Linked DNA regions of Homo sapiens. The protein of the gene in region 2 purifies or fractionates together with the protein of the main gene of each other region. This does not show direct contact. Each region holds a gene or a part of one and is shown on either strand. Other genes may lie near its edges. The genes, in order: LYAR, ZC3H8, KSR1, PYM1 and RSL1D1.

What was found.
Region 1: the proteins of ZC3H8 (region 2) and LYAR purify together in Homo sapiens (affinity purification with mass spectrometry; one large-scale study listed by BioGRID and IntAct). This does not show direct contact.
Region 3: the proteins of ZC3H8 (region 2) and KSR1 purify together in Homo sapiens (co-immunoprecipitation; one large-scale study listed by IntAct). This does not show direct contact.
Region 4: the proteins of ZC3H8 (region 2) and PYM1 purify together in Homo sapiens (co-immunoprecipitation; one large-scale study listed by IntAct). This does not show direct contact.
Region 5: the proteins of ZC3H8 (region 2) and RSL1D1 purify together in Homo sapiens (co-immunoprecipitation; 2 studies listed by BioGRID and IntAct, with this or other methods). This does not show direct contact.

The regions. Positions count from the first base shown.
Region 1 is NC_000004.12:4,272,142-4,278,290, forward strand, and holds part of LYAR (cell growth-regulating nucleolar protein), read right to left. Parts: intron 2,629-6,149; coding exon 2,226-2,628; intron 1,529-2,225; coding exon 1,442-1,528; intron 1-1,441. UniProt on the Homo sapiens protein: Plays a role in the maintenance of the appropriate processing of 47S/45S pre-rRNA to 32S/30S pre-rRNAs and their subsequent processing to produce 18S and 28S rRNAs. Also acts at the level of transcription regulation.
Region 2 is NC_000002.12:112,231,043-112,237,191, forward strand, and holds part of ZC3H8 (zinc finger CCCH domain-containing protein 8), read right to left. Parts: intron 5,654-6,149; coding exon 5,520-5,653; intron 3,195-5,519; coding exon 3,078-3,194; intron 2,330-3,077; coding exon 2,218-2,329; intron 906-2,217; coding exon 796-905; intron 1-795.
Region 3 is NC_000017.11:27,622,154-27,628,046, forward strand, and holds the end of KSR1 (kinase suppressor of Ras 1), read left to right. Parts: exon of another isoform or gene 1-1,160; coding exon 1,161-1,239; 3' UTR 1,240-4,282; downstream 4,283-5,893.
Region 4 is NC_000012.12:55,915,304-55,921,452, reverse strand, and holds part of PYM1 (partner of Y14 and mago), read left to right. Parts: intron 1-3,704; exon of another isoform or gene 3,705-4,476; intron 4,477-5,920; exon of another isoform or gene 5,921-6,010; intron 6,011-6,149. UniProt on the Homo sapiens protein: Key regulator of the exon junction complex (EJC), a multiprotein complex that associates immediately upstream of the exon-exon junction on mRNAs and serves as a positional landmark for the intron exon structure of genes and directs post-transcriptional processes in the cytoplasm such as mRNA export, nonsense-mediated mRNA decay (NMD) or translation.
Region 5 is NC_000016.10:11,844,016-11,850,164, reverse strand, and holds part of RSL1D1 (ribosomal L1 domain-containing protein 1), read left to right. Parts: intron 1-2,358; coding exon 2,359-2,497; intron 2,498-3,321; coding exon 3,322-3,470; intron 3,471-3,562; coding exon 3,563-3,664; intron 3,665-6,149. UniProt on the Homo sapiens protein: Regulates cellular senescence through inhibition of PTEN translation. Acts as a pro-apoptotic regulator in response to DNA damage.

The DNA.
Region 1 (6,149 bases), on a different chromosome or scaffold from region 2:
TGGAAATGGAAGCGTATCCATGTCAACATCCCGGCTGAGATGCTGTACTACAGTTGTGTAAAGTGTTATCCTGGGTGGCAACAAGGTAAAGGGTACGCGGATACATAAGGACGCCTGAGTCTCCATTATTTCTTACAACTGCATGTGAGTCTACAAGGATCTCAAAACAAAAAATGTAACAACAACAACAAAAATAACCATTCCAGTTGTCCCCCTTGATCTGCAGGGGACAGTTCCCAGACCCCCAGTGGATGCCTGAAATCACAATGGTACTGAACCCCTATATATACTGTCTTTCCCTAAATATTCATTCATGCCTATGACAATGCTCCACTTATAAATGAGGCACAGTAAAAGATTATCAATAACTAATAATAAAATAGAACAATTTTACAATACACTATAATAAAAGTTATGTGAATGTGGTCTCTCTGTGTCTCTCTAAATATCTTATTGTCCTATCCTCACCCTTCTTGTGGTGAAGAAGGCATACAGCAGGACAGCAAGAGATCTCGCCATGCTGCTCAGAACAGCATGCAATGGAAAACTTATCAATTGTTTATTTCTGGAATTTTCCATCCCACAGATATGGGGACACTACTGTTTACTAAGTTGAGAAGGGGGTTTTAAGCTTAGAGATCTAACCCAATGCTGGCAGTCACTGAACTCTGCTAATAAAGCTGCAGGCCCATTTGAGTCTTTGGACCTGTTCTGAACTGCAGGATCCTGGGGGTTGGGGGAGGTGGCAGAGAGATGACGACTTGCCACCTCCCGACAGGTATGAGTGCTTCAGGCCTGAAGAAGCAGGAGAGAAGCTTTGTGTAAGAGACAGCATTTCAGAGGGCCCGTGAAGGCCAGGGACTGGATTCTGAGGTTGAGGATACAAGCAAGGAGACCCCAGAAACAGGCCCAGAGATGGGCAGGGGCACAGTTCAGGGGACTTCTAAGAGAACAGTGAAAGGCAGGGGCAAGAGAGTTGGGGAGGAGCGAAAGGGAACCGGGTCTCAGAAAGCTATATTGGGCTTATTTAAATTTCAAAGATAACATACATTTCCAAACCAGACTGCTTTACTTTTCTCCTTAAAGACAGTGGGTGAGAGGCACTGTAAGACTGACTCACACACCCTAGAGAACTGATTTTACTTTCAAATTCTTATATATACCTCTGGAGGGTAAGACCCTACTAGAAGTGCCCACATTACACCTTCCTTCCCCAGAAGGGGGCATCTCTCGGCCCCTCTCCCAACCTACAAGGGACCGTGTATTTCTCTCTTTTCTTTTCTCTCTCTCTCGCTTTTTGAAAGTGGTACGCCCATGGCTCACTACAGCCTCACACTCCTGAGCTCAAGTGACCCTCCTGCCCCTGCCTCTGAAGTAGCTGGGACTATCAGCGAGAGCCGCTGTGCCCAGCCGTGCTCCTCAAATGACAGCAGTGATATACCTTTTGCAGGAGCCTCATCGTCTTCTGGTTCTCCGCCCTCAGGATGCTCTGGGAGCTTCATCTTTTTCTTCTTAGAATCTGTTTCAACTAAGTATTTGGAAAGATTTTTTTTAAAGAAGATTTTGCATTTACGCTAGCAGCTACCATTTAATGAGACCTTATGCGAGCTAGGCAAACTCCACGTATCATCTCATTTCTTCTCCAAGCTGCCCAGCCCCGGTTTATAAAACCCCAGGAGGGTTTTATCCTCCTCCATGCTGGAGATGGGATGAAAGGAGTTGAGAAGTGAGGTCATTTGCCTGGGCAGGGCCCACCTCTGCCTGGCCACAAAGCTTATGCTCGTTCCCTTACTTGGTTCAAAACATAAGGTCTAGCTAGGTGCGGTAGCTCATGCCTGTAACCCCAGCACTTTGGGAGGCCGAGGGGGGCGGATCACCAGAGGTCAGGAGTCCGAGACCAGCCAGGCTAACATGGCGAAACCCCATCTCTACTAAAAATACAAAAATTAGCTGGGTCTGGTGACACACGTCTGTAATCTCAGCTACTCAGGAGGCTGAGACAGAAGAATCGCTTGAACCTGGGAGGTGGAGGTTGCAGTGAGCTGAGATCGTGCCACTGCACTCCAGCCTGGGCAACAGAGCAAGACTCCGTCTCAAAAAAAACAAAAAAAAAAAAAACCACACACACACGCACACAAAACGCTAGGTCTAACAGGCTTAAATATCCCAAATTCACAGCTTTCCCGGTTTTCAGATGAATCCCAGAGCGTGAGCTAGCCACTTACCTTCCGAGTGCCTCCGCTTCCTCTTCCCTGCGCCCACGCGTGCCTCTTCCTCACTGGCGCTGTCCTTGCGCTGCTTCTTCTTCTTGCTCCTCTTCCCTGCAGAGCCATTGGCCTCAGGGACTTCCTCCCCACCAGCCTCAAGGTCAGCCTCCTGTCCCTTTTTGCGCTTCTTAGGCTTCTGATTCCTTGAGTTTTCCTGGTGGTTTTCTAACTTTAGTTCTTTCTTTTCTCTTTTCCTTTTCTTCTGCCGTTCTTCCTTTCTTTCTCTTTTATTCTTCTTCACCTCCCCTTGCTGTTCCACGGCGTCTTTCACTTTGGAGGCTGGAACCTTGGTGGAGATTTCTGCATGTGGATTTGCCACTGGGTGGAGTGGCCGTTGATCCTGTTCCTTATTGACTGGTTCCTTATCATTAAGCAAAAGCAAGAAACACATATTCATTTTAAATGTGTAAATAGAGTTGTCACGTTATTGCCTGGGCCTACTACATAAACTGTTCAAGAAAAACGGTTGGTTTAATCCCTTATCGTTTTATAACTGTGACCCCCACCAACAGCTAAAATGTAGCAGTAAATATACAAAATGGGAAACCACTTCCCCCAGTCCACACCCCTCTGTCTGCACAGAACAGACATTTTCATTCCACTGGAAAAGTGAAGAATCCTTATGTCGCTGAAGATAAGACCTTTCATTCCAGCTCACTATTCACCTTTTAGATAAGAGAAGAGTACTTAGGGGTGGTAGAAACCACTGGATGTTATGTGTCTGCAGACCTGGGTTCAAGCTCCAGTTCTATTAATTCCTAGTCAGGTGACTAAGGGCAAGTCATTTATCTTTTCCAAACCTATTTCCTCATCTGTAAAATGAAAGGTAGTAATACCTACCTCACACACGGACGGATGAAACGAGGAAAGATCCGTCATGTGCTTATTAGCATAACACATGCCCAATAAACCAGCCCATTGTGTGTGAAGAGTTTTGTAAATTATCAGCCTTAGAAAATGGTACTGTTATTATCATCATTATTCAGACTGGAAAGTTACCATTAGAAGAATGGTCACCATTCTCATCATTCTTTTTTTTTTTTTAATGGGGACAGGGGTCTTGCTTTGTTCTGTTGCACAGGCTGAAATGTAGTGGCACAATCTCAGCTCACTGCAACCTCCAGCTCCCAGACTCAGGCAACACGCCTGCCTCAGACTCCCAAGTAGCTGGGACCACAGGCGCAAGCTATCAAAACCGGAAAATTGTTTATTTTCTGTAGAGACGGGGTCACCATTCTTTACGTATGGAGGTGTCTCTCTAATGGTTACCCCTGTTAAATACATTACCTCATTTATGTATTTTTTTTGGGACAGAGTCTCACTGTCACCCAGGCTGGAGTGCAGTGGTGCAATCTCAGCTCACTGCAACCTCCACCTCCCAGATTCAAGTGATTCTCCTGTCTCAGCCTTCTGAGTAGCTGGGATTACAGGCATGCACCACCACACCTGGCTAATTTTTGTATTTTTAGTAGAGACAGGGTTTCACCATGTTGGCCAGGCTGATCTTGAACTCCCAACCTCAGGTGATCCGCCCGACCTGGCCTCCCAAAGTGGTGGGATTACAGGTGTGTGCCACAGCGCCAGGCCTTGCATTACCTTATTAAAATCAGCACATAGAGCCTACTTTAAACAGTGACATCAGCAAGTTCAGTCCCATTCCTTCCTGAACTCCCTCCCTGAGCCCCTTTCTCAAGAGATGACCTGGAGCAATTCATTGAACTGTTCCATGTTCCCTGATGCCTCTGGAGGGAAAGAGAGTGGCCAGTGGCTGCTTCCAGGTGTGAGAAACCACTGAGCTGATGCACCTGCAGGCGGGGGTTCAAATTCCGTCTCTGTTAGTCTAGCCAAAGGACAGGGTAAGTTACCTACAGTCTTCCTCCTTTGGGAGATTGTGGGTAGCAAGGACTATGTCCTCAAAACTGGACCAAATAAAAAAGGACAAGCTTTCACTAGAGTGCAAGGACTCAGGACTCAGACCTTAAGGCTCGATCCTTGGCTACAAGAGCAGCATTAGAAAATGGATACTGGGGAGGCTGAGGCAGGAGAATCACTTGAACCCGGAAGGTGGAGGTTGCAGTGAGCCAAGATCACGCCACTGCACTCCAGCCTGGGTGACAAGAATGAAACTCTGTCTCAAAAAAAAAAAAAAAGAAAACGGATACTGTAGGCCGGGTGCGGTGGCTCATGCTTGTAATCCCAGCACTTTGGGAGGCCGAGGTAGGGAGATCACCTGAGGTCAGGAGTTTGAGACCAGCCTGGCCAACATGGTGAAACCCTGTCTCTACTAAAAATACAACAATTAGCCAGGCGTGGTGGCAAGCGCCTGTAATCCTAGCTACTCGGGGGGCTGGGACAGGAGAATCACTTGAACCCAGGAGGCAGAGGTTGCTGTGAGCCAAGATCGTGCCACTGTACTCCAGCCTGGGTGACAGAGTGAGACTCCGTCTCAAAAGAAAAGAAAATGGATACTGATGTAACCACCTGGTTTTCTCAGTAGCAGTGGCTTAGCAGCATCAGGTTGTCAAGGCTCATGGGGTAAAGGGCAGAGGAGGATTTCAGAAATAGACTTAGGAAGAAGGGGACAAAGAAACTTCACATCTGTCCTACAATTCTGTCGATATCTTCTAGTAAAATATTATTATCATTATGATTTTTTGAGACTGAGTCTCGCTCTATCACCCAGGCTGGAGTGCAGTGGCACAATATCAGCTCACTGCAACCTCCGCCTCCCAGGTTCAAATGATTCTTGTGCCTCAACCTCCCGAGTAGCTGGGATTCTAGGCGCCTGCCACCACACCCAGCTAATTTTTGTATTTTTAGTAAAGACAGGGTTTCACCATGTTGGTCAGGCTGGTCTCAAACTCCTGACCTCAACTGATCTGCCTGCCTCAGCCTCCCAAAGTGCTGGGATTATAGGCATGAGCCACTGTGCCCGCCATAAAATATTATTTTAACCACTGAGAGCCTGAGACCCTGGCATCCCTTCTACACAATCCAGACCAGATTTTCAGCTGGTGCCTTGCCTCTTTGTCTAAACCAACTCCTCGGCCACAGGGAGAGAGGGAGGGAGGCACACATTTACCCATCTGGTAGCTGCTCAATAAATAGGTGAACCAATTCTTCCCCATCTTCTTTTTACCTCATTACACACTCTCCTCAAATGTGGTCTCCTCTGTGATGCCCTGACTCTTTCCTAATCGAGCACCTCCTTCAGTCCTGGCCTCCCAATGCCTCTGGCTTCTTCCCAGTGCTGATCAGGACCTGACATTACACCATGGACCCGCACGTGGTGCCTATCTCCCCCACTAGAACACAGCTCCAACCAGCCAGGACCTTGGCCTAATTACAGTTGCATCCACAGTGATCAGGTGAACTGTGATGGGGTAGAGGACAGAAAAGCATCCGACCTGACATCTGGCAGAGTTACAGGAGGATAAACAACCAAGGTACGGAGGACAAGGCCTCAGGACCCTCTGCTCTGCACTACAAACACAGGGTATGCTGGGAGGGCCGTGGTGCAAAGGCAGAGGTAAGGGATGACAAGCTGCGTTTCGCAGAGCTCAGGGTTTACCAGGGGCTGTTTACTCCTTATTTTATTTAATGTTTAATATGTTCACACTTCAAAAGGGAAACTGGAAAAAACTTTCTAAAACCCTGCAGTTGAAGCAATTTCAAATCTTTGATTCTTAGTTAAAACAGAAATAACCTTAAAAAATAGATGCCACATAAAGGCCAATCTAATGATCGGTTATACGGTTTCAAAGGGCCAATTTGTACCTTCTGAAAGAGACAAACGCTAGGTGTACTACCGAGATAAATTTTCATCTTGATGCCCACTTGTTGCCGAAAGTATTCTCTCTACATAAGTGAATCAACTCCCGA
Region 2 (6,149 bases):
CAAATTCATCCTAATAATCATCTAATATTATTTACTACTACTACAGGAACTGAAAAACTTATTTCATATATATCACTTTTCCATATCTATTTCACACAAATAAACAACTAAATATTTGGTACAACTTCTAATTCCACATTAACCATTCATATTTTACAACCTAAAAATATCTATAAACAAGCACCTTTGACTTTGTAATATTTACATATGCTCAAGGGAACATTTTGCCAGAAGATCGTATGGTTGGCTTCAAAAGAATCTTTTAAATTTTCATGTATACTTAGATTAAATTTTTAAGAGACTAGCTCCAACTAACATGAGAAATGAAAGAATACAAATGACTGTAACTTTTCAATAACCTTTTCTCACAGACTGAAAGAATATCTGAAGAAAACATTTTGAAATTACTACTTAACTATTATTTGATGTAATTCTAAAATGTTTATAAACCCGTAACTTGTAACTTTCCTTCCAAGAATCTTTATAACAGGAGTACTATTTTTCTTATTTGATTTGCTTTGTTTAGCTTAGCTTAGCTATTAAAATGGCTAATTATACTGAAGATTTTACATCTTTCCAACTTAAATCAGCAATGAATATACATCTTCCTTTCAGCTACAAGGAAACATATACAAATGAAAAATATTTAAACTGAATTCTTAAGTTATTAGTCCTAATATATCCCATATGCTAACCTAAGAGGCACTCTCCTTAATTATCTTCAAATTCTCATCCTTAGTTCAAACATATTCCTTAAAAAAGAAAAAACAAAAGATTATTAAAAATTATACTTACTTTAGCCAACAATTCTTGTGTTTCAGGAGTCAGTGGAGCATGAGAAAACTTGCAGTATTCTCCCTGATAACATTTTGTTCCTGTATGGTAAAACTTACAAGGATATTCATGTAACCCAAGTGTTAAGGAAGAGAACAATTTTAATCCAATTGAAATAATGTTATTAACTTAATGACTTTATTTTTCCTAAATAAAGACCTCTGTGGCCGGGCGAGGTGGCTCATGCCTGTAGGAGGCGGAGGTGGGCAGATCACTTGAGGCCAGGAGTTCAAGACCAACCTAGCCAACATGGCGAAACCTCGCCTTTACTAAAAATCCAAAAAAATTAGCTGGGCATGGTGGCGCAGGCATGCCTGTAATCCCAGCTACTCAGGAGGCTGAGGCACCAAAATCATTTGAACCTGGGAGGCGGAGGTTGCAGCGAACCAAGATTGTCCACTGCACTCCAGCCTGGGCAACAGAGCAAGATAATGTCTCAAAAAAAAAAAAAAAAAAAAGACCTTTCCTACTAGCAGAAACTGGATTTCTCTATTTAAAGTATGAGATAATAAACTAACTGGAATACATTTAAAAATCTAATTTTAGAAGGACTACATACGTAAATCAAGTTTCTTGGCTATGACAGGACATTTTTTTCCTTCATATCCATTCTTATAATAGAGTACAGGCATGTTTCATATATGAAAGGGGTATATATTTTAAATACCTTGATAAATGTGATCATTTTTAAAGCATTCCTTTGGGGGTGGAGGAATCAAAGTCAACAACGACATATCTTACAAATCTGGATCCTTTGTACATTAGACTTGTTTACAACAGAATAAATTTATATAACTTCAATATTTTCTAGGAAAACAATCCTCAAATTACAATTTGATACTCCTTATATTGAATGCCTGAAGAAAAAAATTTTTTTGTGATGACTAAAGGTGCTATTAACCTAAAATGTTTATGTTCCATGTTTTTACAACTTGTCTGTGCCATTTGCACTGAAGAGCTAAGGCTATTCTGCAAATTAAGGGATGATTAATTTCTACACAGTACAGAATACACAGAAAACAGGTACTCCCAAATTATGTAATCCTTGCCTTTTTATGAAGTAGCTTATTTGAATATAGATTCAATTAATCAGTGTCACAGTAGAAATTGTGATAAGTCTTTCTGGGATTTGAAGAGGTCTCATGGACCCTCTATACCACCCAGGTTGAGCAGAAAGAATCATCATTTGAGAGATTTTCTAAAGAATCCCTCTTTTCTTGCTTATGAAAAAATCCACGTACAATTTAATCACTTTGATACTAAGTTGGGCTTGGATAATATCATTTTGGTATACCTAAAACACTGGTTTCATTAAAAATTTTGCACATTTAAAATGTTCATGTAAATATTTATAAAGTCACCATATCTTGTGATAAAGGATATTATGCAAATACAGACAGTTTTCACCTCTGGTACAATATCCTTGTACATAAAACTTACACATTTCCTTTTTCTTTTCTATCTCTGCATCATGATCAAATTTACACTGGTCTCCCTAGGCCAAAAGAAGGAGCAAGGAAAAGCCATTATTTCTCATAGTCAAGTCATTATGATTTAATTCCTACTAAACTTTAAATAAGCAAATGATTCCAGAAAGAACCAAAGTCTTAGAGGTAGCACATTCTAACTGTTAATAAATTATAACCACATCACATATATCTGCTTAAAATCTTCTTAAGTCCCAAACATTTTTAAACATAAAGCATTTTTTAAAATTATCAGTCGCTCACGCCTGTAATCCCAGCACTTTGGAGGCCGAGGTGCGCGGATCATGAGGTCAGGAGATCGAGACCATCCTGGCTAACACGGTGAAACCTCGTCCCTACTAACAATACAAAAAAAATTAGCTGGGTGTGGTGGCTAGCGTCTGTAGTCCCAGCTACTTGGGAGGCTGAGGCAGGAGAATGGCATGAACCCAGGAGGCGGAGCTTGCAGTGAGCCGAGAATGCGCCACTGCACTCCAGCCCAGGCGACACAGTGAGACACCATCTCAAAAAAAATAAATAAATACATAAATAAAAATTATCTGACTCAGGTGATCCACCCACGTCGGCCTCCCAAACTGCTGGGATTACAGGCCTGGCTACTTTTTTAAACATAAAAGAATACTTCACTAAAATTTTCTAACTGATTTTTTTCCAGAATGAAACAGCTTTAAAAACCTAAAGGTATGAATTAAAAGAGTATCAAACAGAAAGAGCAGTTTTACATTTTAGTAGATTTTTGCTTACACATTTTTATACCTTAATACATTTCCTTTCAAGAAAATATTTACAAATTTGTTTTCCCTTGCGTTCCACTGTATGTTGGTTGATGAATGCCTGACTCAAATGCTGCTGCTTCTCTTTAGGTTTACCATCCTTTAAAAACAAAAACAAAAAAACTAAATGTAAGAAACAGAAAATTAAATATTTTATTCTGTTGCACAAAATTATTTAAACCAACTTCAGAGCCTTAAAGGTGACTCTTCTAAATTGGCCTTCATATGTAAAATTTGGATTTCTGTACACCAGGTTAAAAATGAATGTTTTGTCAGTTTCAACAGCATTCCATCATTGAATATTAATGTTTGTATTGATTTGAATATTTTATGATACATTGCCTTTATTTTGTAAAAATGAATGAAAAAAATTTTTTAAATGGGCCAGACACAGTGGCTCACGCCTGTAATCCCAGCACTTTGGGAGGCTGAGGCGGGTGGACCACTTGAGGTCAGGAGTTCAAGACCAGCCTGGCCAACACAGTGAAACCTCATCTCTACTAAAATACAAAAATTAGCTGGGAGTGGTGGTGTGCGCCTGTAAGCCCAGCTACTCTAGAGGCTGAGGCAGGAGAATCGCTTGAACCCAGGAGGCAGAGGTTGCAGTGAGCCAAGATTGCACCACTGTACTCCAGCCTGGGCAATAGAACGAGACTCCATCTCAGGGAGAAAAAAAAAAAAATTAAATGAAAGTGATAGTATTTATGATTAAAAACCGAAGTCTAAGAACGAAGATCTTTAGAGTGGTAGAGACAAAGTTGGAAATCAGAGTGAACCAAAAGCAGTGGAATCTATAGTTTCAATGAGATGCTCACTGGGTGTGAGTTGAGCACACTTATCAGCTCAAATTAACACACGCAACTAGAAATACACCGTCAAAGATGGTGATAAAGGTATAAAAGGAGATTTTTACATTAAAAAAAGGAAGAAAATCTTATAATACATTTAAGCTCTTCAGAAACATAAGGTACTTTTTACATGTTAACTTATGCTACAGATTACAGCTTCTGTATACCAAATTTTTGCATACAGTTTTAGGAATACAGTATGTACAAACAAGGGAGCTGACTGTACAGTCATTTATAATAATGTCAAATTTCCACTTAGCACCATCAAATTTATGTCTTATAAATATCTGCCAGTTTAAATCTTGTTTTATTTGGTAACATTATTAAATTCTATATATATGTTTAGAATTTGTTCCTTGTGTAGAAGGGCTGTCAGCTTTGGCTGAATAATCATTTGAGCCATGTAAATCAAATCAAAGAGAATATTGACAGGGGGTTGAGAAACAAAATCCTAGTCCTGGCTTGGCCCTGTGTGACTATGGGTAATTACCTGAACCACAGGGCTTCAGATTCCTCATTCATAAAATATGGAGGCAGGGGACAGACTGTATATAAATGTTTTTCAATCTAGAATATTTGGCATTTCTAATATTTTACCACCCCTTACCCTTGTCCCATATGACCAAGCCTAATAAAAAAAGTTGCCATCCAGTTAAAAGCCCTCAGAAAAGTGGAATCCAGAAGAGGTACTTATTATTCTACCCTGCTTACATCTACAGACCAAGGAAAGGGAACTTCTAAAAACCAAAATCAAAATACAGGAAGGTGGGGAGTGGGGAGATTCAGTAAGGCCAATGCTCAGAAATATTGATTTTTAATTTCCAGAGGGAGCCAGGATGAGGGACTTTAGTAGTAAAAAATTTGTAAGACTCAGTGGCCTTTGAAATGCCTCATGACTATTTGATCTTCTCTGGGCTTCCCATTTTTCCCGAGTCATTGATAGTATAACACTAAAAAAAAAAAAAAAAAAAATCAAGGAGTGACCAGGCACAGTGGCTCATGCCTGTAATCCCAGCACTTAGGGAGGTGGTGGGTGGTGGGAGCCGAGGCAGGTGGATCACCTGAGGTCAGGAGTTCAAGACCATCCTGGCCAACATGGCGAAACCCTGTCTCTACTAAAAATACAAAAATTAGCCGGGCATGGTGGCGGGCGCCTGTAGTCCCAGCTACTCAGGAGGCTGAGGCAGAAGAATCACTTGAACCCGAGAGGCGGAGCTTGCAGTGAGCCGAGATCGCACCAGCCTGGGTTACAAGGCGAGACTCTGTCTCAAAAAAATATATGTATAACAATAATAAAAAAAATCAAGGAGCTTGTGTGCATATATTCAGGAACAACAGTGAGAACGCTAAGGCTTAAAAGTGGTGCTGGCAGCTAATCAGTGAGAAAAAGAAAGCTGCAATAAGAAGGAAGAACACAGAGAACCCAGTGACAGTAAAAGGACATCTTCATCCGAAAACCGATTCTGTGGGATGCTTCCACCTCTCCATATCACATAGCACTTCTTGTCACTGAAGTATAAGATCAAGTCCAAAAGCATGCAGGGGTCAGGTATTCCTAGAAGCATATATTCCAATACCTCTTCCTGTGAGCCGCTGTTCCTCAGCAAAGCATTTGATCCTTTGTTTCCAGGGCCAGGCCATTTTCGCTTCATTTTCTTCTGTTTGCCATTCTTGTGACCAGCTTTAAGATTTTTATTTTTTTGTTTAGCAGCTAAAAACAAAAAATTAATTTAAAAAATGACATAAAGTTACAATAGCAGTTTACTTTTAAGAAGTACGGGGCCAGGTGCAGTGGCTCATGTCTGTAATCCCAGCTCTTTGGGAGGCTGAGGCAGGAGGACTGCTCAAAGCTAGGAGTTCAAGGCCAGCCTAAGTGTTCAAGGCCAGCCTAGGCAGCCTAGAGATCTTGTCTCTACAAAAACATAGCTGGGTGTGGTGGTGCACGCCTGTAGTCCAGCTACTCTGGGACTATAGGCTAAGGCAGGAGGATTGCTTGAGCCAAGGTGTTCAAGGTTACAGTGAGCTATGACTGCACTGCTGCACTCCAGCCTGGGCAACAGAGTGAGAACCTGTCGCAAAACAAATGGAAAAAAGAAGTATGATTTACAATAATTGAGGAAAGTTCTCTAAGGCTCAATAAGTGAAAACTGGCATGATAGTGATCAGTTTTCCTAGAAGCTCTGGGACTAAGGGACCAAAAAGAGAAT
Region 3 (5,893 bases), on a different chromosome or scaffold from region 2:
TCAGAGGATCCCACTAACTGAGCTCCCTCCAAGGCAGTCTGGGCAGCTTCTAACTACCTTCCTGGACATGACTGATTGCTCCCGTGTTCTTCTGAGGGCTGGTCTTGTTTTTGTTTGGGTGGCTCTGTCTCACTGCTAACACCTTAGTGAGATGCCTTCCACCCTCCTGAGCACACCAGCCTCCCACTGGGTGTGTGCCTAGTGCGGGGCGGGCGGAGGTTGGGAGGGTGTTGGCTTGGCTTTTAACCTGTGGGGATTTTGTCCAACAAGGAGTGGAATGATTTCAGAGCTGCCCTGAGGCTGGCACCCTGGTCACAGGAACCCTCTGCGCTGGCTCCTGTCTCAGTCCCCTCTGTAGAGTTAGATCAGAAGACACAGAAAGTTCTGTGGCCATGAAAGATACCAGCTTGGAAGGGTTGTGTCTTCAGTGGCACCCTCAGAAAAATTGTCTTAAAGCAAAGAGGTACCTGGCTCCAGACAATTTTTCTGATGAAAACAAAGTCTCTGCCCCGTCCCCACCCTGCCACCCTGGCAAAGTTACTTCCTTTACAGCTGCCCAGTGTACCATAGACCAGACCCCAGGTCAGCATTTGTCAAGAGCATGGCTGCTGAGTCCCCTGTGGCAGTCAATGCACTGTTTACCAAATGCAGGTTTCTGTTCTCCCTCCCCAGCAAGACCTGCTGAACCCAGATCTCTGGAATGGGGCCCTAGGAATTTGCATTTCAACCTGCTTCCCAGGTGGCCCTGATGCACCCCAGTATTAGAGTTTATTGCTAAAAGGAACATGCCCTGTCACTCCTGGTATCCTGGGAGTCATGTTTCTCTTCTCTCTCAGTTCTACTTGGAGCAAGAGCTTTCCTGGGCTGCAAATGAGAAAACAATTCCTAGGAACCCACAGCAGTACTGAGCATGCTGGGAGCTTGGGACTTGGAGATGAATGAGCCACCGTTGCTGCTCCAAGTAGGACTACTTGGAGTGTAGCTGAGGCCTTGGACGCAGTATGACCAGGGGCAGCTCTGCCAGGGCTGTTGGCCAATCAGTCATTTTCATTTCTTGTTGGAGGCCAGGTCCTCTGCTGAACTCATTTCCTAGCTAGTGTTACCCTAATTCTGATGAAGATCAATGGGGCTATAATTCTTGTTTTTGTTCCTCTTTGCAGCATTAACAGCAGCAAAGTTGTACCCCGGTTTGAAAGGTTTGGCTTGGGCGTCCTGGAGTCCAGTAATCCAAAGATGTAGCCAGCCATATGGTTTTTCGCTGCTGATCTCTTTCTTTTTAAAATGTGTTTCTGAAACATCCCAACAACCACCACGACAAAAAAACACTGCCTGCCCAGCGCTGCAAACCAGGAGCACACGTCCTAGATTCAGACTGTTGGCCATAAACCCCACTCGGGAGATGGAGCTGCACCTGCTATTTCTTAAAATGACACCACCAACAACCAAACCTGTCATGACAGACAGCAAATGTTTACACGTATATTTCTCCTGAGTGAACCTGATGTTTTACAATAGGTAATAATAAAAACAGTCTGTGCAGATGCACTGGCACTGACGGCCAGGATGGCGGAAATGGCCATCCCCTCTGAGGACCTTGTAGGCGGTGAGGGACCCATGCTGGGCCAGAAGGAAGACAAACATGGTAATTGCAGCTGTTCTTGGGGTAGGGCGGGGAGCCCAGAAGGTCTGATCTGGCCTCTGCTTTTTGGCCCAAGACTCCATCAGGGAAATCTATCTAGGGCTCTCCCCTTGTCCTTTCAAAGGGATACTGCCCCTTCCTCGTCTTGCAGAGGAAACCCTGGCTAGGAACTGAGCTAGTTTATGGAGTCTGGAATTCCTGGAGAGCTTGGGTTCACCTTCTCACCCCTGTAATCCAGGCTGCTCCTGCTGGAAAAGTAGAAACAGAATCCAAAAAAGGTCTGGACTCACCCGGTGGTTCCCAGCCAGGGTTTCTGCTGCAAGGTGAGGAAACATCCATGGCTTGTACAGATGTGAGTCTTTGATGAAGCCCCCAGGCAGGCACCAAGGTGATGGGACTCAGGGCCTTGGCTTTTAGATACATCCCAGTCCCTGACTGACATCTGACCATGAGGGCTGGATGGGTGGGAACAAGGAGGAGTAGATGGCAAAAGTACCTGAGCCCACTTCCCAGCCACAGGGTGACCCTGGCACTGTAAAAACCCTTTGTCAGTCATGCCAGAAGGTTCTAGAACTGCCCACCTCTTCCATTTCAGTCCTGCTGAAACCCCTTAGCCTATTTCCGACTCCTCTGTCCATGCTCTGAGTTCAGCTGGGCAGTGTGTGGGCTATCACCCCTTTCATTTAGACCTACCTAGCTGGCCCCCATCTGCAGAGCCTTCCTTAGCACCATTAGGCCTTCTACTTGTGTCCATTTGAAGCAGGAGGGGCTGGATTTGGAAAAGTCTTTGAAGTGAGAGCACCACGCTTGTCTTCGTTAGAAACTCTTAACTGCAGAAAAAAGTTCCAGATGGCAAGGGAGCCCTTAAGTGGAGATTAGGTTGCATTAGACTCCAAAACCAGAAAGGAAAAAGGGTGATGGGAGTGGAGACGTGATTGGATTCAGGCCCAGAACCTGTGACCATGCTCTGAGCTCAGACTTGGGGAGGGAGGGGTGTGGCTCCCACCCCTTCCAGTTAAGACCTGCCTAGCAGAGCCCCAGTCTCCAGCCCCTTCCCTAGCACCAGAGTCTGGTCAAAATGCCACAGAAAATGAGCTGCTCTGCCAGCAAGCTGTGGAGCTGCCTCCTCTCCAGGCCTGGCATCCCTTGGTCAGCCCCTCCTGGGAGGGCACAGCCGTATTACAGTGCCAGTGTGCCTGGCCATCAGCATCTTCACCCTTCCCAGTCTGTGTGGGGAGGCTGTAAACCCCGTGGATTCAGCTCCGTGTGGAGTTTCTGTGCTATGGTGGGACTGCTCATTTTGCCCCATCATCCCTTTGGCCTCCCACACACCTGCCCCTTCCCAGGGATCACGTGTGTCTCCAGCCTTTCACCTTTCTATTGCAATGGTGGCCTTTGTCCAGGCAAGAGCAGGCCTGATGGATGTACTGGTGAGCCCCACAGTTGGATGTCAGCTCAGCCGTCCAACTGGGAGGAACAGTAGGCTCAGTTCCTCCCTGACCCCTGACACCAGGCCGCAGTGGGCATGCACAGGCCCACAGAAAGTCAGTCTGGGTTTTGCTTTTCTCGTGAGCATCACAGTTAAAGAAGCGCTCATTGAGCAACTACAGTGCACTTGGTCTTCTGCAAGTGCTGGGCACCTAGAGATAGGAACAGTCATGGTCCCTGCTCTTAAGGAACTGATGACCTGGTGGGGCCCTGTTGTCTTCAAGGAACCCAGAAGCCACTGGGCCCCAAAGGTGGAACTGAAGGACTGGGGGCAGCTGGCTCTCAGCCTGCCACCTCTGCACTGCCTGCCTTTAAAGAACCCCACCCCACCCCATGATGGCCCCCTCTGTTCCCCTTGTATTTCAGTGACTGTGAATTGAGGTTAGGAAGGCACACCTGCCCTTCTGTGTGCTCTCTCCACACGAAGGATGACAGATACTGTGAATTCAGCCCTCACGGCCAACTGTGAAGGGGATGGAGAAGGCTGGGAGGGCTCGGGGAGAGCTCTTAGGGGCTGCGGAAGTCCCCACGGGGGTCTGAGAGTGGAGCCCAAGCTTTGGCCCTCCAGGCATCCCCAGTTTCCAGCCTCACCTCTGAAGCCCTGCTGCCTTTAACCACCAGAGCCGCAGCCCCCTGGGTTTCTGTCTAACTCGAAGTCTTGAATCCTAGCTAGTTTGGGGTTGTGAGCAGTGTGTAGCAAAGTTGATCTCTCCATGTCACCAAATCAAAACACCCTCTGTCATCCTACGGCATTTCCTCTTGAGGTCACAGAGAGGAATGGCAAGCCCTGGAAACCTGTGTTATTCTGTGTTGATTTGGTGTGGGGGGAGGGTGGAGACGTAAATGTGAAGCCAGTTGGAGTTTGTGCTATGCAGCAGTGTTAGCCAGGATCTCATCAGCGTGCAAACCTAGCATCTTCTGTGGCCACAAGCCACACACTTGCTTTTTTTGAATGTGATGTAAAATTTGTACAGTAAAGTTTTTATATTTTCTATCAACTACATTTGTCTTCCAGACATGCTATTAATTTAAATTAAAATGGTTAGTATTAACAAACATGCTGTATCGGGTTTTTTTGCCACTGGCAAGAACATGCCCTCTGTGCTAAGCCAGGCCTGGGTGTCTGGAGTTTGTGAATAAAGTTATACCAAGGTGTTCTGGGGCTTGTCTTTGCTTTGGTCAGTTCCAGCTGAGTCCTGGGGACCATTTGGATGGGTGGCATGGGAATGGATAGGTCTGGGGTGACTGAACCCCTGGTCTATAGATTAAGGAGCTCCTTCCAAAGGAAGAAGTTATGCCAGGACCTCAGTGGCAGGTGTTTCTAAACAGATGGAGGAATGGAGAAGGCACAGCGTCAATGGCCCACAATGCGCAGAGGAAGATCATCCAGGCCCCAGCAGCAACAAAGCCATGAGCAGGCCCAGCATCTCCTGAGCTGGAGATGCCTTAGCCTTATGGAAGCCTTGGAGGGATGAGGTGGTGTTCATCTGAATCCAATATCTAGGAGCCCCTCATTGCCAGTTATATATACAGATAGGTGGAGAAGAGGTACTTTCTAAACACCATCTCACTTTAATCCTCACAAGGCCATGAGGTAAGAATTGTGATGTTTCAGCTGAGGAAAATGAGAAACGGAGAGGTTAAGGTATTCACCCAAGATCACACAGCTGCAGGGTGGCCAATCCAGGACTCAGGCCACAGCTTTCACTCCAGAATCTCTCCAGAAGTCTAGGAATTTGCTGGTCAGACATTTACTGAGCACCTACTATGTTCATAAGACAGTGCTAGGTTGTGGAGCATTTTCCAGGATAGGCCGCGTGGTAGGCCACACATTAAGTCTCAATAGATTTAAACATAACATACAAAGCATCTTCTCCAACCACAATAGGATGAAGTTAGGCAGCGGCACTAGATTCTCATAGGGGCACAAACCCTATTGTGAACTACACATGTGAAGGATCTAGGTTGTGCGCTCCTTAGGAGAATCTGAGTCTAATGCCTGATGATCTAAGGTGGAAAAGTTTCATCCTGAAATCATTGTATATCCCTTTCCATCCGTGAAAAATTGCCCTCCATGAAACTGGTCCCTGGTGCCAAAAAGTTTGGTGACTGCTGCCTTAAACTACTACTGGATTTACTGAGTGAGGCAAACCAAGTACTGTTTTGTCATAGTCTGTTTACAGGAGAGAGTTGCACTGTTAATTTGCCATTAGGAAGCAGTTAGAACCATATATCTGACTTTATGGAGGTAGAATACGCTCAAAGAGAATGTTCTCAGTGGGGGGGATGTGCATGCATGTTTTAGTGATTAATGTGGTTCAGTACGGCTGTACCAATACAATGAGGTTTCCAAAGGGAACTGGACAAGACGACCCAGGGCCCCCTGCATTGTACGACAGGACTCAGGTGTCTGCGGGCATCACTGACTGCCCTGCCGAGGCCCTCTGTGCTGGAGGTGTCACTGCAGATGGAAGGATTCCTTCTTGAGGAAGTCTACTACTGGCGAAGGTGAATGGGTCTGGGCGCAGGATCAGTGCAGTCCAGGAGTGACTCTAAAGGTGCTGGTGTGTGGGCACTACGTGCGGAGCTCAGCCCCAAGTCCTTTTCATGCATTAGCCCATTTAATCCCCACAGCATCTCTCTAAGGTTCACATTCATTTGCCTCATTTTATGGGTGAGGAAAGGAAGCTTGGAGAAATTAAGGAACTTATTGAAGATCACACAAGAATTAAATGACAGGGCCAAGATTCAAACGTGGGCTATTTG
Region 4 (6,149 bases), on a different chromosome or scaffold from region 2:
AGTTATCAAAATATCATTCTTTTATTCCTACTGCTGTTACCCTTATCCCATCTACAGTACTTGTTAGCTATATAGCCTTGGGAATCTAAGTCTTAGTTTTCTCATCAATGAAATTGGAATAACTCCTGCAACACAGGATTATTATGCGTATTAAAATTTAAATAAAGTAATTTACATGTTTGGCACATAAAAAGTGTCCAACACATTGTTCTATAATTATTACTATTATGTAAGGGTCATTGTATGGGTTAGAAGAAATTACTATATATGGCCAAGTACCAGGCATAGTACTTGGGCCATTCCAAGTGCCTGCTAAAATTCTAGTTTCTGTTGTTCTGCAAATATTACTGTGACCTCCTAAACTGGTCATCGTATTTCCAGTCCCTCTCTTGTTTCATTTCTACAGATACACTGCTACCAGATTACTGCTTCTTAAGTGCAAATTTAGTTATGTAATTTTTGTTCAATATTAATTCATCAACCCAGAGTCTGCTGTTATATATGGCATATATCTTTCTAAACTGTTTTAAACATAGCAGAACCAGATGGTATATACATTTTTATATCTTGCCTTTTCATTTAGCCTTATGAGGTAAATGTTTTTCCTTGCTATTAAAAACTCTGTAAACATCTTTTAAAATACTGGCAGAGTGTTTTATAGTTTGGGCATGCACCCTATCTTACTTTCTTCTGTTATTGGACTTTTAGATTGTTTTCAGAATTTTTATTATAAGAACACTAGAATGTTTTTGTGCATGCATCTTTTTCGGCATTTAGGGTTATTTTCTTTTTCTTTTTTTTTCTTTTTTTTTTTTTGAGACGGAGTCTCGCTTTGTCACCAGGCTGGAGTGCAGTGGTGCGATCTCTGCTCACTACAATCTCCACCTCCTGGGCTCAAGTGATTCTCCTGCCTCAGCCTCCCGAGTAGCTGGAATTACAGGCATGCACCCCCACTCCCAGGTAATTTTTGTATTTTTAGTAGAGATGGTGTTTTACCATGTTGTCTAGGCTGGTCTTGAACTCCTGGCCTCAAAGGATCGCCCACCTTGGCCTCCCAGAATGCTAGAATTACAGGCATGAGCCACCGTGCTCGGCCTGATTTTTTAAATTATCTGTAAGATGAGGTCTTGCTATGTTTCCCAGGCAGGTCTCCAACTCCTGGGTTCAAGTGATCCTCTCACCTTGGCCTCCTGAAGTGTTGGGATTATAGGCATGAGCAACTAGTTTTTCTTTTCCTTTTTTTTTTTTAAAGAGACAAGGTCTTGCTCTGTTGCCCAGGTTAGTGTACAGTGGCACAGTCATAGCTTGCTGTAGTCTTAACTGTTGGGGTCAAGCAATTCTCCTGCCTCCTCCTCCTGAGTAGCTGGTACTAGTACTACAGGCATGCGCCACCATGGCTGGCTAATTTTTGAATTTTTTTATAGAGCTATGTTGCCCAGGCTGTTCTCAAACTCATTTTCACAAGCAGTGCTCCCACCATGGCCTTCCAAAGTGGTGGGATTACAGGCATGAGCCACTGCACCCAGCCTAGTTTTTCTTTTTTCTTTTTCTTTTTTTTTTGAGACGGAGTCTTGCTCTGTCTCCAGTCACCCAGACTGGAGTGCAGTGACGCGATCTCTGCTCTGCCAACTGGGCTCAAGCTATTCTGCCTCAGCCTCCCAAATAGATGAGATTACAGGCACGCACCACTATGCCCAGCTATTTTTTTGTATTTTTAGTTAGAGATGGGGTTTCACCGTGTTGGCCAGGCTGGTCTCGAACTCCTGACCTCAGGTGATCTGCCTGCCTTGGCCTCCCAAAGTGCTGGGATTATAGACGTGAGCCACCATGCCTGGCCCCCAGCCTAGTTTTTCTAAGCACATATGCATATATAACATTAAGGTAAAATGACATATTTTGAATTATACTGTTAAGATTGGCTGTTATTTTCTAAAATATGAATCCTTGAAACACCTAGTAATCTTCTGAGATGTGACACAAAATAAATAACTAAAATAGAGGCCGGGAGTGGTGGCTCACGCCTGTAACCTCAACACTTTGGGAGGCTGAGGCGGGTGGATTGCTTGAGCCCAGGAATTCGAGACCAGCCTGGGCAACATGGCAAAACCTCGTCTCTACTAAAAATACAAAAAATTAACTGGGTGTGGTGACACACACACTCCTGTAGTCCCAACTACTTGGGAGGCTGAGGTGGGAGGAATTGCTTGAGCCTGGGAGGTGGAGACTGCAGTGAGTCAAGGTCCAGCTATTGCACTCCAGCCTGGGTGACAGTGACCTCATCTCAAAGATAAATAAAATAAAATGCAAATAATGTTTCTGTGCACAAATTTTGAGAAACACTGTAAACCATATTCCCATCTTGCATATGTACCTGAATAAGAACATAGTAACTCATTTAAGCCTTGCTGTTAAAAAAAACAAACGCAAAATCTTTTTTGGTGTTTAACCCAGAATTTCCCAAACTTATTTAACAATTTTTAGGGATAACCCCTGTTTAATATCTTATGGGAGTAGTATTTTACATAACAAAAGCTTTGGGAAATGTGATTAAATGATAGGACTACCTTTTTTATTTTTGTTTTTTTGAGATGGACGCTTGCTCTGTCGCCCAGGCTGGAGTGCAGTGGTGCAATCTCGGCTCAGTGCGACCTCTGCCTCTCAGGTTCAAGCGATTCTCCTGTCTCAGCCTCCCAAGTAGCTGGGACTACAGGCACGTGCCACCACGCCCAGCTAATTTTTGTATTTTTAGTAGAGACGGGGTTTCACCGTGTTGGCCAGGCTGGCCTCAAACTCCTGACCTCAGGTGATCCACCCGCCTTGGCCTCCCAGTGCTGGGATTACAGGTGTAAGCCACCATGTCCAGCCTAATTTTTAAATTTTTTATAGAGATGGAGGTCTTACCATCTTACCCAGGATGGTCTTGAACTCCTGGGCTCAAGTGATCCTCCTACGTCAGCCTCCTAGTGTGCTGGGATTACAGACGTGAGCCACCATGCCTGGCCTATTTGTTGATTTCCATTTTTATTTTAGATTTAGAAAATGTGCAGGTTTGTGGTTGGGCGCAGTGGCTCACGCCTGTAATCCCAGCACTTTGGGAGGCCGAAGCGGGCGGATCATGAGGTCAGGAGATTGAGACCATCCTGGTTAACACGGTGAAACCCCATCTCTACTAAAAATACAAAAGAAACTTAGCCGGGCATGGTGGCGGGCACCTGTAGTCCCAGCTACTCGGGAGACTGAGGCAGGAGAATGGCGTGAACCCGGGAGGCGGAGCTTGCAGTGAGCCGAGATCACGCCACTGCACTCTAGCCTGGGCGACAGAGCGAGACTCCGTCTCAAAAAAAAGAAAAAAAAAAAAAAGAAAATGTGTAGGTTTGTTACATGGGTATAATTATGTGATGCTGAGGTTTGGGGTATGAGTGATCCCATCACCCAGATAGTGAGCTTAGTACCCAATAGTTAAGTTTTTTTTTTGTTTGTTTGTTTGTTTTTTGTGATGGAGTCTTGCTTTGTTGCCCAGGCTGGAGTTCAGTGGTGTGATCTTGGCTCACTACAACCTCTATCTCCCGGGTTGAAGTGATTCTCCTGCCTCAGCATCCCAAGTAGCTGGGATTACAGGCATGCACCACCATGACCGGCTGAGTTTTGTATTTAGTAGAGTTGGGGTTTCACCGTGTTGGCCAGGCTGGTCTCCAACTCCTGACCTCAGGCGATCCATCTAGCTTGGCCTCCCAAAGTGCTGGGATTACAGGCGTGAGCCACTGTGCCTGGCCCCAGTAGATAGTTTTTAAACCCGTGCCCGCCTCTAATAATCCCCAATGTCTGTTGCTGCCATCTTTATGTCCGTGAGTACCCAGTGTTTAGCTCCTACTTATAAGTGAGAACATGCAGTATTTGGTTTTCTGTTCCTGTGTTAATTTGCTTAGGATAATGGCCCTCAGCTGCATCCATGTTGCTACAAAGGACATTATTTTGCTCTTTATGGCTGTGACAGACTACTTTTTATTTAATTAATTAATTTTTTTTTGTTTTGAGATGGAGTCTTGCTCTTGTTGCCCAGGCTGGAGTGCAATGGTGCGACCTTGGCTCCCTGCAACCTCTGCCTCCTGGGTTCAAGTGATCTCTTGCCTCAGCCTCCCAAGTAGCTGAGATTATAGGCACCCACCACCACGCCCGGCTAATTTTTTTTATTTTTAGTAGAGACGGGCTTTCACCATGTTGGCCAGGCTGGTCTCGAGCTCCTGACCTCAGGTGATCCACCCGTCTTGGTCTCCCAAAGTGCTGGGATTGCAGGCATGGTGAGCCACTGCGCCCAGCTGACAAACTACTTTTTAAATTTTTTTTTATTTTTGAGACAGAGTTTCACTCTGTTGCCCAGGCTGGAGTACAGTGGTGTGATTGCAGTTTACTGCTGGCTTGACCTCCTGGGTTCAAGTGATCCTCCCAGCTTAGCCTCCCAAGTAGCTGGGATTACAGGTGTGCGCCACCATGCCCAGCTAATTTTTGTAGAGAAGAGGTTTCACCATGTTGCCCAGGCTGGTCTTGAACTCCTGGATGCAAGCGATCTGCCTGCCTCAGCCTCCCAAAGTGTTGGGATTAGAGGCATGAACCACCACGCCCAACCTCAGACTACTTTCTTTTTTTCTTTTTTTGAGACCGACTTTTGCTGTTGTTGCCCAGGCTGTGGAGTGCAATGGCCTGACCTCGGCTCACCGCAACATCCACCTCCCGGGTTCAAGTGATTCTTCTGCCTCAGCCTCCCGAGTAGCTGGGATTACAGACATGTGCCCCACACCTGGCTAATTTTTGTATTTTTAGTAGAGACGGGGCTTTCTCCATGTTGGTCAGGCTGGTCTTGAACTCCTGACCTCAGGTGATCCGCCCGCCTCTGCCTCCCAAAGTACTGGGATTACAGGCGTGAGTCACCGTGCCTGGCTGACTACTTTTAAATGTAGTATTATCACATGCTATGTTTTTGCCCATACCCTCTAGTGAAACTGGGCTGTATGGCTGATGTGGAACAGCAGTGCGATGGTGTGTAAGCTTTGGCATCAGACTTGAGTTCAGGTTACAGATATGTGCTACCTTTGGGATCTTGACCATGTCTTTTTTTTTTTTGAGCTGGAGTCTCACTCTGTCACCCAGGCTAGAGTGCACTGGTGTGGTTTCAGCTCACTGCAACCTCTGCCTCCTGACTTCAAGCAATTCTCCTGTCTCAGCCTCCCGAGTAGCTGGGATTACAAGCATGTGCCAGCACGTCTGGCTAATTTTTGTATTTTTAGTAGAGATGGGGCTTCGCCATGTTGGCCAGGCTGGTCTCGAACTCCTGACCTCAGGTGATCCGCCCGCCTTGGCCTCCCAAAGTGCTGGGATTACAGGCGTGAGCCACCGCACCAAGACTTGACCATGTGTTTAACCTCTTGAAGACTGTTTCCTTGGCTGTAAATGATGATATCTATCTATCGTTTAGATTTAACAGGATGATGTATACAAAGTTCCTCCTGTAATGTAGCTACTTATTAATAAATACTCTTTACTAATCATTCTTAAATACTGAGTTTTCCACTGCTAGGATTTTGCTTTTGTTGTTCCTCTTATCCCCTTTCCCTTTTCTCTGCCTGCAGAAATACTGGCTGCTGATTTGTTGTTATCATTAATTATTACTACTTTCTAGTCTTTAGTGTCAAATGAGGTTTTCCTGATTATCTCCTGTCATCTCTTAGGATACTTACGACACTCTTACTTTTGTCTTATGCTTTGCTTGCCTAATTTGCCCACTTCCTCCTTACTTAGTCTGTAAATTTTTTGAAAATTGGGACCATCTTACTCATCTTGATAACCCTATTGGCACTTACGGTACTTTTCTTCTAGGAGGCTTTTTTTTTTTTTTTTTAAAGATAAACTCTTGCTCTGTCGCCCAGGCTGGAGTGCAATGGCATGATCTGCAACCTCTGCCTCCCAGGATCAAGTGATTCTCCTGTCTCAGCCTCCCGAGTAGCTGGGATTACAGGTGTGTGCCACCAAGCCCAGCTAGGAGGCTTTTAATGTTTATTTTGTTTAATTTGTAGTCTGGCCTCTTTACCACCGTGCTTTTCTGAGGCTGTATTTGTGGAGATAACCAGGGATTTCCAAAATGCCAAAGCCAGAAC
Region 5 (6,149 bases), on a different chromosome or scaffold from region 2:
ACGTGAAGTAAAACAACTATGTCCAAAAGAACCATAGAGGCTTGATGTGGTGGCTCACACCTGTAATCCCAGCACTTTGGGAGGCCGAGGTGGACGGATCACCTGAGGTCGGGAGTTCAAAACCAGCCTGGCCAACATGGTAAAACCCTGTCTCTCCAAAAATACAAAAATTAGCCAGGCATGATGGCGGGTGCCTGTAATCTCAGCTACTCGGGAGGCTGAGGCAGGAGAGTGGCAGTGAGCGGAGATGTCTCCATTGCACTCCAGCCTAGGCGACAGAGCAAGACTCTGTCTCAAAAAAATAAAAAATAATAAAAAATAAAAGAACCGTAGAAATTCAGATGTGCTAAAATTTTCTAGAAATTTCACCAGTTTTCTTAGAGCTTGGTGGACAGCTAACGTAATCAGGTCTGTTGAATCGAAAACGTGGTGTTCGAAAGAATAAAGGTGGAATAAGTTAAACAGCTTTATTTTATTTTATTTTTTTATTAGAAACTGTTATCTTTCCATGTCAAGCAAAAATTCTTTGGGGCTACAATTTATTCCTTTGTACAGAGACTATTAAAAACTGCAGTGAATTTCTGTCTATGGAAAAGAAATCCATGGTGATTATACAGAATGCTTCTTCAGAACATAGGTTGTAAGCATAAGAAATGAGTTAAACCCTTGTATTTTATTTTCTGTAAGATGTGGCATAATTGTGTTTGCTGGTCCCTCTTGGTTTAGTCCATGTTTTTGGTTTCGATTCTTTTATCTCTCCTTTTTTTTTTTTTTTTAAGAGACGAGATCTTGCGCTGTTGCCCAGCTGGAGTACAATAGTGAGATCTGTGTTCACTGCAACCTCAACCTCCCTGACCTGACTCAAGTGATCCTCCCACCTCAGCCTTCCAAGTAGCTGGGACTACAGGTGCACACCACCATGCCTAGCTAATTTTGAAATCTTTGTGGAGATGAGGTTTCACTGTGTTCTCCAGGCTGGTCTCGAACTCAGGCTCAAGCAGTCCTCCCTCTCAGTCTCCCAAAGTGTTGGGATTACAGGCATGAGCCTCCATGCCTGGGCTGTTTCAATTCTTAAAAGTTATGTTATGCTGGGCATGGTGACTCATCCCTGTAATCTCAGCACTTTGGGAGGTGAGGTGGGTGGATCATTTGAGGCCTGGGAGTTTGAGATCATCCTGACCCAACATGGCGAAATCCCATGTCTCCTAAAAATACAAAAATTAGCCAGACATGATGGTGGGCGTCTGTAATCCCAGCTGTTTGGGAGGCTGAAGTGCAAGAATCATTTGAACCCAGGAGGCAGAGGTTGCAGAGACTCCAGCCTGGGCGACAGTGAGACTCCCATCTCAAAAAAAAAAAAAAAAGTTATGTTGGCTGAGTGTGGTGGCTCACACTGTAATCTCAGCAGTTTGGGAGGCTGAGGCAGGTGGATTGCTTGAGCCCACAAATTCAAGACCAGCCCAGGCTATGTGGCGAAACCCTGTCTCTACGAAAAATACAAAAATTAGCTGGGCCTACACCCAACTGGTACGTGCCTGGAGTCTCAGCTATGCTGGAGGCTATCGTGAGCTATGATCACACCACTGCACTGCAGCCTTGGGTACTGAGCAAAACCCTGTCTCAAAAAAAGGAAAAGAAGAAAGAGTTATTATGTTTATGGAGCTAAGAGTTTTAAAGAAGGTAAAATTCTGAACCAGGCTTGTCCTGATTAAGCTAGGTTTTTATAGCGCATTACAGTACGTGTGCACATACAGCAACATATGTATAATAATTATATATGCAAGCATTTGGAAGTCTTTAAGTATATTTTAATTCTTGTTGTATCCCAAGTGTTAATTGATATTTGGGCCTGTGTGTTTTTGTGATTTACTTGCCATTGAAAGTGAGTTTTGTTTTTTGTTTTTGTGTTTTGAGACGGAGTTTGCCTCTTGTTACCCAGGCTGGAGTCCAGTGGTGCGATCTTGGCTCACTGCAACCTCCACCTTCCGGGTTGAAGCGATTATCCTGCCTCAGACTCTCAAGTAGCTGGGATTACAGGCACCTACCACCGTGCCTGGCTAATTTTTTATAATTTTAGTAGAAACAGGGTTTCACCATGTTGGCCAGGCTGGTCTTGAACTCCTGACCTCAGGTGATCCATCTGCCTTGGCCTCCCTAAAGTGTGGGATTACAGGCTTGAGCCACTACTACCGGCCATGAAATGTATTTTTAAGTGTTGTTCTTGGTGCATTATTTGCTTAACTAGCATGACTAAAAGTTATTTAAATAACACTAAGTTTATCGCGTATTCTGTGTGATACAAACATGCATAATGTGTGTAATAATGCTTTCCTCGGTTTCTTTTCACGTATTTTGTAGGACCTTGCCTCATAGTATTCGATCAGATTCAGAAGATATCTGTTTATTTACGAAGGATGAACCCAATTCAACTCCTGAAAAGACAGAACAGTTTTATAGAAAGCTTTTAAACAAGCATGGAATTAAAACCGTTTCTCAGGTAGGAAGCCTGGTTAATATTTTCAAGTTATTTAGAGGATTTAATTCAGGCGAAATGGTATCACAAATACATTGCTATATTTCCTAGTATTTTTCTTCTACTTTTCTCTTTTTAATTTAATTTGTGGTGGCGTGTACATCAGTAGCTTTTATATCTTGCAAATTATAAAAGAGGTGGCTCGTGTCATTCCTCTGTACTTCCACAGCATCTTGTTTTTCTCTGATTTGCTGTTTTGTAGTTGGTGTACTTGTCTTTATTACCCTCTGGATCTAAGGTATCTAAGTTTTTTTGTTTGTTTGGAGTCTCGCTCTGTCGCCCAGGCTGGAATTCAATGGCAGGACCTCGGCTCACTGCAACCTCCACCTCCCAGGTTCAAGCTATTCTCCCACCTCAGCCTACCGAATAGCTGGGATTACAGGCACCTGCCATCATGCCCGGCTAATTTTTATATTTTTATAGAGACGAGGTTTCACCATGTTGGCCAGGCTGGTCTTGAATTCCTGAGCTCAGGTGATCCACCCACCTCGGCCTCCCAAAGGGCTAGTATTACAGGCGTAAGCACATACAGCAACATATGTATAATAATATATATATGTTGCCCACCTAGATCTAAGTTGCTTTAGCTGGGGTCTTTTCTCATTTGTCTCAGTGTTCCCAGCATGTAGCGTAGTGCCTGGCACATTTTAGGCCCTCAAGTGTTCATTAAAGTATAGAGGCATGGCTCTAGGACATTTTTAAATCCAAATCCAAATTGTTGCCTAAGTATTTCTTCTCCTTGTTTAGATTCCTAACTTCTTGTTTTTATTCTTCTCTATACTTCCTAGATTATCTCCCTCCAAACTCTAAAGAAGGAATATAAATCCTATGAAGCCAAGCTCCGCCTTCTGAGCAGTTTTGATTTCTTCCTTACTGATGCCAGAATTAGGCGGCTCTTACCCTCACTCATTGGGAGACATTTCTATCAAAGAAAGAAGTAAGTTTCTTAGTAATGACTGGACTTTAGCAGCATGAAGCTTCTAGGTGTGTATGCATTGTGTTCTGAATGCCTGTGTGTTTATTTTGTAGAGTTCCAGTATCTGTAAACCTTCTGTCCAAGAATTTATCAAGAGAGATCAATGACTGTATAGGTGGAACAGTCTTAAACATTTCTAAAAGTGGTTCTTGCAGGTAGGTAAAAGGCATTCATGTGTGCCTCTTTTAATCTTGTATTTGACAATGATTTTATATATACTTATTCGTTTTGTTTTGTTTTTTGTTTTTGTTTTTTTTTTTTGAGATGGAGTCTTACTCTGTCTGCCAGGCTGGAGTGCAGTGGCACCATCTCGACTCACTGCAAGCTCCGCCTCCTGGGTTCACGCCATTCTCCTGCCTCAGCCTCCCGAGTAGCTGGGACTACAGGCGCCTGCCACCACGCCCGGCTAATTTCTTTTTGTATTTTTAGTAGAGACAGGGTTTCACCGAGTTAGCCAGGATGATCTCGATCTCCTGACCTCATGATCCGCCCGCCTTGGCCTCCCAAAGTGCTGGGATTACAGGCGTGAGCCACTGCACCTGGCCTTTTTAAAAAGATTTTGTTAATGGCTCCAGATCCTTTTTTAAAACTAAAATCTATTCCTCAGAAGTGATCAATTCTCGGGTCAGGTGCAGTGGCTTATGCCTGTAATCCCAGCACTTTGGGAGGCCTAGGCAGGAGGATCGCTTGAGCCCAGGAGTGCAAGACCAGCTTGGGCAACATAATGAGACCCTCTCCCCCAGCCAATTACAGAAAAATCAAGAACATTAGTCAGGTGTGGTGGTGCATCCCTGTGCTCCCAGCTACACAGGAGGCTGTGGCAGGAGGATCACTTGAGCCTAGAAGGTCAAGACTGCAGTGAGCCATGTTCTTGTCACTGTTCTCCAGTCTGAATGACAGAGCAAGACTGTCTTTAAATGAAAAAAAAAAAAAGTTCAGTTCTCTAGAACAATGTTGTCTGATAGCACTTTCTACTGTGATGGAAATGGCCTGCATCTGTGCTGTCTCATACAGTAGGCACTATTTGTATGTAGCTATTGAGCACTTGAAATGTGGCTACTGTGTTAGAAGCTGAATTTTTAGTTAATTTAAAATAGGCACATGTGGCTAGTGGCTGATGGTCACTGCATTGGACGGGGCAGCTCCAGATACTAAGAAAAGCAAGGAGAGTAAGATGAATGCTTGGAGAACATGACTAGTTCTAGGCTTTGAGCTTGTCCTTTATCGTGCCACTGCACTCAGTGGTGCAGTCACAGTTCACTGCAACCTCCAACTCCTTGGCTCAAGCAATCCTTCCACCTCAGCCTCCTGAGTAGCTGGGACTACAGACACACATCACCATACCTGGCTAATTTTTCAATGTTTTGTAGCGGCGGGGTCTCACTATTTTGCCCCATCTAGACTTGAACCCCTAGACAAAACCGGTCCTCCTGTCCTGGCCTCCAAAAGTGTTGAGATTATAGGCGTGACCCACCACACCTGGCCTCAGATTGTCCTTTAAAAGCACCATATTACCCCTTAACGTGAAGATCCACCTCATTCTTGGTTTAACTTCCTATTAAATGAATTCAGCACTTATCCTGTTCATCTGCCTATTTGGTGTGTGTGTTGTCATATTGGTTTAACCTTACCCTGGATACTGAGCTAGGCGGAGCCCCCACACCTAGTCTTACCTACTAGAACAGATGTTTTAGGGCAGTGATTGCTTCCAACCTCTGGCTGAGCAAAGGATGCGGTTCAGGCTATTTTATTAGGCTGAGAAGTGACTTAAGTTTGTATTATTGGCAGTGTATCAGCTTGGGGAGGTAGGGCAGGTTTTAAATGTATTGAAAATACATTTTATGAAGTACTGCACTTGCTGACTGCGGTGTGGAGATGGCTAGCTGCCAGTAAGGCAGAGCTGTAGGCCACTGCCCTTCCACCCAGAGATTCCCCAGGAGCCGTGCAGACCCAGTGGACACAGTCGGCAGAAAACAACACAGACTTCTTGCCTCTGCTCACCAGGGAGGCCTGACCCCAGGGGAGTGTCTCCAGGTAGAGCAGAGCAGGGTACTGGTGGGCAGGACAGGTGGTCTCTGGTGTTGTCTTTAGCCTGCTGCTGGGAATCCCTTCATCAGGTGTAATGAAGTAGCCTAGAAGAGTTGGTCACGGAGCCTAGACCCCTACCCCTTTGGTTAAAGGCTAATGTCAAAGTAGTGGCTCATGGAAGTGGTTGGCTAGAAGTTCAGGCCTTGTTTATGGGACCCATGAGTATCTGGGAGAAGAAGATGGTACCATGAAGGCAGGTAAAGGAGCAGCAGTCTCCTGCCACTGGGGATTTTCCAAGGCAAAAGCAACAGCTTAAAGAAAGTTGCAGACAATTGAGAAAAAAAGAAATCATTCTTTATTTCCTCTCTTACCTTTCCCCAGCAAAAGAATTTATTTTCCTCTTCCACTTCTGTTCCTCTCCCTTCTTCCCCCCCACCATCTTTCCATCTGGGATGCTCAGGTGTGCTTGCAGGCAGGTGGTGACAGGCACAGGGAGTGGGCAGTGCCCAGTCTTTGGCTGAAGAGAGAGAGGAGCAACAGTCCGTCTCATTCCTCATTCCGCAGACACTGTGCCGACAGTGAGCCTTCCTTCTGGCTCACTTCCTTCTGGCC